Homo sapiens: one gene and its partner. The protein of the gene in region 1 purifies or fractionates together with the protein of each later gene. This does not show direct contact. Each region holds a gene or a part of one and is shown in the gene's direction. Other genes may lie near its edges. The genes, in order: SLC25A38 and GALNT7.

Region 1 (3,821 bases):
AGGCGGGGCATGGTGGCCCACACCTATAATGCTAACACTTTGGGAGGCAGAGGTGAGCAGATTGCTTGAGTCCAGGAGTTTGAGACCAGCCTGTGCAACATAGCGAAACCCCGTCTCTACAAAAAAATTAGCTGGGCACGGTGACACACACCTGTGGTCCCAGCTACTCGTGAGGCTGAGGTGGGAGGATCACCTGAGCCTGAGAGGTCATGGTTGGCAGTGAGCCATGATTGTGCCACTACACTCCAGCCTAGGCATCAGAGCAAGACCTTGTCTCTAAATAAATAATAAAACAGAAGATGACTATGGCTTCAGGGTAAAGAGTGGATTAGAGGGGTCATATAGATGACAAATGGGTAAAAAATTGGTGGCCGTCACCAAGGCAAGAGATAACAGGGTTCTCAGCTGGAATGGATTGGTGGATTTGAGAGCTGTTTTGGAGATAGAGTGAACAAGTGTGGAGAGGCCAAGTCCAAGGATGGTGCTCAGGTTTCTGGCTGGGGTGCTAGAGAAATGGCATGGCATTCACTGGGATGGGGCACCTTGGAGGAGGAGCTGGTCGGAGGTGTGGGAGAAAGGTAAGTTCAGGTTTGGAAACATCATCTGAGGTGGCCATCTGAGTACGTGGCTGTGTGAGACTGAGCTCCAGCGAGAGGCTGAGAGTGTGGAGGGGAGGGTGGAAATGGAACCCTTGGAAGTGGATGAAGAGCCATGGGAGTATGGTTCATTTAAGGGAGAGGCCAGAGAAGTGGGAGGAAACCCAGGACAGTATTAATCTCTGAAGCCAAAGGAAGAGAGCATTTCAAGGAGGGAGTGGTGGTGAATAGTGGAATGCACTGAGTGGCCTAAGTATCCTGGATTTTCACTTTAGACTGGGTGGTATGGTGAAAAGAGTATGAACTTTAAGTCCTGGCCAGTGGCTTCAACCCCTGTGACATAGGACACATTTGTAACCTCTGTGAGCTCCAGTTTAATCTGTAAAACGGGTTTAAAATACCTAGCTCATAAGATGCTATGAGATTTTGAGGTGGTGTCTATAGATGCCTCGCCCAGTGCTACTCTGGGAGCAGAGTGGAGGGTGGGTTGGCATAGTTGAGGCTGGAGACTGCTGCAGAGGTCATTAGGATGGATCAGTGGAGGCCAGACTGGGAAGATTGAGGGCTTGGTCAGTGGGACTTGGTCATGTAGCAGCAGGCATGGTGAGTTTTATGTGTCTCTGAGGTTTCCAACCTGGATTCCTGGAGTATCCCAGTGTGGATTGGAGAAGAGGCAAGTGTGTGGAGAACTGTTGACCAAGTTTCCATTTTGGACATGTTGAATTTGAGATGCCTGTGGGCCATTTGAGGGAAGACAAGGAGACATTAGCAGAGTCTGGGGAGAGGCCAGCCTGGGCTGGAGATGTGGGCATTACCAGCATGTGTGTGAAGCCTGGATATGGGTGAGGTTACTCTGAAAGGAGATAAGAGGAGCAGTCCTATGTGAAGGGCAGGCCAAAGAAGAGAAGGAGAGAGAAACCAGAAACTGTGAGGAGAGGCACTCAGCTATATGGCATGTACCAGAGAGGCCAAGTAAGATAAGGGCAGGGACAGGAACGGGGTCCTGGGGTGCAGCAGGTGCTTGGTGAGCCCTCAGAGGCTGTGTTAGTGGAGGAGATTTAGCTGGATAGCAAACTGGGGGGGCCTGCGGAGGGACTGGCACAGAGCAAGTGGAGATGGTGTAGCGTCAGGCTGGAAAGATGGATGCTTTGGAGCCTGTTGCCTGGCAGAAGAGGAGATGCCAGTGGGAGCGAGAGACCCAGTGTGTGAAGAAGGGGGGCTCATTAATGCCACAAAGTCTTGGGGAGAGACTAGAAACACAGAACTCATGAGAATATTGGTTGGCAGAAGAGCAGGACACCTCTTGGGGAGAGGGAGTTGATGTAGATACAGACTTGCTAAAATACGCACACCTTACTTGGTTTTACCTGTTGTCTTATCAGACCACCCTTTGGTACTTCAGAAGTTATTGCATCGTGGTTGTAAACTCCAGTTTTTAATGACCTTAGTTCCCCCCACCCCCTGCCTCCAACAGTCTTATGAGGAATTCCAGTTATAACTGGCTTCTTTGGTGGAATTTGAGATACACTCTCTTCTCTGTTAAGCAAATACTGCAGATTACAAATATTTCAGTTCCAGGTAAGTAGTTATGTGATGTGTAATGGAAACTTTATATATATTCATCTTAATGTTTTAGGGCCACAATGTGTCATTTATTTAAAAAATAATAGTGCAAATGCCACTTAATAAGGGAAGAGGTCTTTGGGGATGAATTTGCCAAACATTTTTGGAGAAGATAGCTATTTGTTTATTTATTTATTTATTTATTTTAGGGAAGGGGAAGAAGGTCACTGGTTGGATTTTAAGTACCTTTTCACAGTCATTTGTGATACTACTGGGTTCTAGGGGTCTGGAGAAAGGATGCTGTCCTGTAATGATAGCACCAGTGCTGGAAGCTGCAGCTCCTGGAACTAAGGGAGGTATATTTAGTCTTTGAAGGAGTTCCACCCTTCCAGGTGGTGTCTGTAGATTAGCCAGTGTATATGACGGTTCATGGGTTGAAGGAGAAGCAGCAAAGCCAGGGGAGGCTACTGGTCTGTAGGACTGTGTGATCTGCTTAGGGCCCAGTGAGATGGTAAGGGGAAAGTTTTAAATGAAGGAAATACTAGGTTCTACAGGAAGTGGCACTTACATTTTACACAGTGGTTGAGCTTAAGGTTTCATTTGCTTTGGCTTGGTCCTATAAATACCTATAGGTCTTAGAGCGAAGGGAGTCTGCACATCATCAGTTCAAAGTGAAAGCACTGCATTCAATTGACTTTGCTTTTGCAAAGATAGGGAGATGACCAGTAACTTTTTGAGTCAGAACAAATAGGGAAGAGTGGTCAGTGGCATGGAAATAGTTTTGCTCCCACTGAGCAATATGTCTATCAGCAATACGAAGACCAGAGATACCTCTTGCAGCATCCAATGTCCTCAATAACATTGCAGTATTTTTAATTTCTGGCTATACTTTTTCCTTCTCCGAGGTATGAAGAAAACATGAGGCACCACCAGGTAAGTGTCTAAGAGACCATTATAAAGGAATTTGCTGGTCAGGTATAGAGAAAGGTGAGGCTCACACAGGCAGAGCTACTGACACAATATTGTCTTATCCTGCAGTTACATCCGGTGATCAAGGCTTTCCTGTGTGGCTCCATCAGTGGGACCTGCTCTACCCTCCTTTTCCAACCTCTGGATCTCCTTAAAACACGCCTGCAAACCCTCCAGCCCTCAGATCATGGGTAGGCCCTGCATTTCATTGGGGAACTGATTTCAGCAACTTCTCAGACACAGGAACATCTTTACTGTGTTAAGTCAACTTCCATTCTGTTGGATGTTCAGAGAGAAACACAGGCCATGCCCAACTTTCATATGTTCTCTGAATTGTTTTTATATTTGACATTTCTTTTTAATTAAATGGGGTCCGTTCCTGAGCAGCTTCCTGGAATCGGCTCAGTGACATTTACACTTTATTGTGTTAGCTTGTGATGTTATAACTGTATTGCCTGGCATGAGAGTACCAGGGGATTTTCTGGAAATAACATCAGTATTATCTGTTTTTGTTTTTGTTTTATTTGTTTTTTGAGGCAGATGCTCGCTCTGTTGCCCAGATTGGAGTGCAGAGGTGCGATCTCAGCTCACTGCAACCTCTGCCTCCCAGGTTCAAGGGATTCTCCTGCCTCAGCCTCCCAGGTAGCTGGGATTGCAGGTGCTCGCCACCATACCCAGCTAATTTTTGTAATT
Region 2 (3,821 bases), on another chromosome or scaffold:
AATGACATCGAGGTTGTTTTGAGTAGCTGATTAGGTGGCTGCTGAGATTGGGAAGATAGTAGGGGAGTGAATGGAGGGGGCAAGGCTTCTGTTGGTGTTCTGGGCATGTGAAGTACCTGCTAGGCGTCCAGGTAGAGCCATTAAGGCCTACTGATCATAGATTGTAGGTTGTATGATGCCAAAGTCCAGAAGAGAGGCCACTCTGGAGATGTGCATTTGGGGCCATCAGCAGGTAGGTCGTTTCATGGGACTGAATGAGGTCCCCGAGGGAGAAAACACAGATAGAGAAGAGAAGACTAGACCCATCCGTCAGAAACGCCAGCATTTAGAGTTCAGGAATAGAAGGAAAAACCAACAGAGGACACTCATGCTGCTCTCTCTGTACTTCTTGCTTTAATATACTTTTTCCCTATACTCTTATTTTACCTGTCCTATTACAGCAAATTATGTTTAACTCCAACTAGACCATAAGCCTTTCAACACACAGATCTCTCTCTGAGGGCCCAGACAAGTATATCCAACTGTATGCTTAACATCAGGACTTGAATGTGTAACAGGCATTTCAAACTCGACATAGCCTAAATTGAACTTCCTATCTCCTCCCCCCAACCCATCTTTGCTGATTTCTTGGTCAAAAACTTTGGAGTCTTCCATGAATCCTGTCTTTGTCTCGCACTTCATATCTAGTTCCAGAATCTGATCCCTTGTTGCCTGGTCTAAGCCACCATCATCTCTCACTGAGACTAACTTGTTGACTCTCCTACAGCCTATTTCAAATACAGCAGTCAGAGTGACTGTTTTAAAATAAAGGCAAATCATGTCCTTCTTCTGCTAGAAACCCTGCACCTTCACCTATGAGTGAAGACAAAGTCCTTTCTGGTAGTCTCCAAGATCCACAACATCTGTCCCCATTCCTCTCTGGCCTCACCTGCTACTGCTCTCCCCACTCCACTCCAGCCCCATGTCCTTACTGGTCCTCAGACTCCCTCCAGGCATGTGCCTGCCTGTGCTGTTCCCTCTGCCAGGAATGCTTCCTTGCAGATACACGCATGCATGGCCAGCTCTCACACCTCCTTCAAGTCTGCTGACCTACCACTTCTCAGTGAGGTCCACCTTGTTACTTCCCAACGCCCTAGCTCCCACCCTAACTTCCTCTTCTTTTCCTTTTTTTCACCACACTTATCACCTTTTGCCATAACAGACAAATTGTCTACTATGTTTTTTAACTTATATTCTGTCTTTTTTCCCTTACATTCCCAGAGTGAATGGAGGCAGGGGCCCACATTCACTGTGGCATGCCCATTACTGGGGTAGGTGTCTTTATTTTGTTCACTAGTGTTTCAGAGCCTACAACATGCCTGGCACACATCAGGTACTTAATATTTGATGATTGAATAAATACATGAATGAATAAATGGAATTTTCTGTCCTCCTTTTACTGTCTCACTCCCAAGTATATCTTCAGTTTAACCTCTTCCCATTCTGACATCTGCACTTTATACTTCATTTCTCGGCATTTCCTTAACATTCCAGGGTAAACCCCTACCTGTTTTAAAGGTGTCTCTTGGGGCAGTCTTTGGAGCTCCTCCAGGCAGGGTGAGCAGCTCTTCCTCTGTACATTCACACCTCTGTCCTGACTGGTCCACTACCCCTCTGTCTCTCTACAGGCGGTGAGGACCATGACTTGCACCTCTTCATATCCTCAAAACCTGTTATCATTATAGGTGCACAGTCCATATTTGCTGACTGAATGCAAGAATAAAACATTTTATCCAAATAGTATAGCGATTTATAATTCAGAGAAATAAATGGCTTTTCCAAAAATAGTTCTTTTCATACAAAATGTACATTCCAAAGATGGAAACCTGTGTTTGCTTTTCATCTACGTTTATAGAGAAAAGCCTCACTGCCTGGTCATGTGCCATGCATGGCCTATGCACCCTAGACCCCTACAGGCAGCTACCAAAAGTGCTGCATAGCCATTTGGGAGAGGTCCCTTACAAATCCAGTCTGTTCTAGATATCTAGGGCCAGGCCAGTGTTTATTACCACTGTGGTTAGGTTCTCTATTTGCTTCTCATTCACATGAATTACTGTGATTCTGAAATTGCAATTAATGGTAACTTTTTTTTTCTCTGTGGTATTTTACGGAAATGTATAGTCCTTTGCTCTTAGAGAAAGAACCCATTCCAGTGTTGACTTCAAGACCATAAGTTATTTCAAAACTATGTAAAGATTGACAATCCAGTAATAACCTGTCACTACACATACCCAGATTTTCCCTGTAAACTGTAATATTTAACATGAAATGTTAAATTCTGATGCCAGAGTTCATCAAAAACTAAACTGTTGCCTGCTTTTTGCGTCTTTATTCATTTTTTTAGATCAGAGGCTTCGAAACTGCTTACTGCATTGATAGCATGGGAAAAACAAATGGAGGCTTTGTTGAACTAGGACCCTGCCACAGGATGGGAGGGAATCAGGTAAACCACCTTACTTTTGTGTTTAAGTTGTTCCGTATTGAGGGCCATCAGGTTTATTGATCACAGAGTGATCTTTGTACTTTGGTTTTCGATTTGGTAATTTTGTTTGTTTTGATAAAGTAAAACATTCTGTAAAAAAATTGACAGTGTTAAAACATTCACTTAAATGATGGGAATAATAGCAGTATTGGTTTTCACATAAGCAGTCAGAATCTAGAATTAATGTCTAATATAAGGGATTAAAATATATTCCTGTGGGAGTATATATTTGTCACTACCGTAACTATGTAAGCCTAGCTCCCTAACAATTTTTTGCAAGTATTGCTCACTAATCCTCATCTTTTTGCAAATAGAGTGTTACTGCCAGTAATGTATATTTCACTAATATATATTCTCTTACTTATGTGGGTATGTTTTTGCTTTTTCATTTTTTCACATTGTTGGTACTTAATAAATTTGTGTTAGTGACCCATTTGGTATCTTAGAGACTAAAGAACTTAATGATTTCAGTGTTAATAAGGATCTTCACTAACATCAAAATAAATATAATTTGTCTGTGGACTTACAGTTCTAAACAAAATTATGGAAAAATAAGTTAGTCATTCAATTTAATTATAGGAGTTAAGTTTCTTTCTTTTCAAATGCACATCAGCAGGGAAGGTGCCTCTGTTACTTAATTCTCTCTTTTCCTTTTACAGCTTTTCAGAATCAATGAAGCAAATCAACTCATGCAGTATGACCAGTGTTTGACAAAGGGAGCTGATGGATCAAAAGTTATGATTACACACTGTAATCTAAATGAATTTAAGGAATGGCAGTACTTCAAGGTATTCTGCATTTTAACTTCTGAAATATTATATGCTTTTCATTTTCAGTAACATCTAGCATGTGGAATTTAGATAAATAAATCTTAAAACCTGCATTCAAATTCACTTGCATTTTCCTCTCATTTAGTCCCTTGCATAGGTTTTCCTGAGCACTGGATGACTCATTGTTCTATAATGAGGCATCACTTTTGTTCTCTCTTACAATATTGTCATGTAATGAGGCCACGATGATGTCTATAAAGAGCACTGCTAATTTTAGTAATACAAGAAAGTCAGTGTTCTGTGAGGCAGTCATCACCATTGCTCTCATCAAAATCTGATTTTTGAAATGTAAATGAATCATTCATTAAAGTAAAATATATTTAAATATATTTATACTATTAAAAATTTGGTTAATATTTGATATTGTCCAGCAGGTGGAGATAGAGACAAACAAATAAAACTTGAAATCTAGGCTTTCATAACGTCTTTATCATTGTTGTGTGCTAAATACAGTGGGATAAATGTAGCTA

Evidence for each region.
Region 2: the proteins of SLC25A38 (region 1) and GALNT7 purify together in Homo sapiens (affinity purification with mass spectrometry; one large-scale study listed by BioGRID and IntAct). This does not show direct contact.

Annotation. Positions count from the first base shown.
Region 1 is NC_000003.12:39,386,298-39,390,118, forward strand, and holds part of SLC25A38 (mitochondrial glycine transporter), read left to right. Parts: exon of another isoform or gene 1-1,545; coding exon of another isoform or gene 1,546-1,568; exon of another isoform or gene 1,569-3,064; coding exon of another isoform or gene 3,065-3,092; intron 3,093-3,197; coding exon 3,198-3,319; intron 3,320-3,821. UniProt on the Homo sapiens protein: Mitochondrial glycine transporter that imports glycine into the mitochondrial matrix.
Region 2 is NC_000004.12:173,315,251-173,319,071, forward strand, and holds part of GALNT7 (N-acetylgalactosaminyltransferase 7), read left to right. Parts: intron 1-2,383; coding exon 2,384-2,482; intron 2,483-3,180; coding exon 3,181-3,309; intron 3,310-3,821. UniProt on the Homo sapiens protein: Glycopeptide transferase involved in O-linked oligosaccharide biosynthesis, which catalyzes the transfer of an N-acetyl-D-galactosamine residue to an already glycosylated peptide.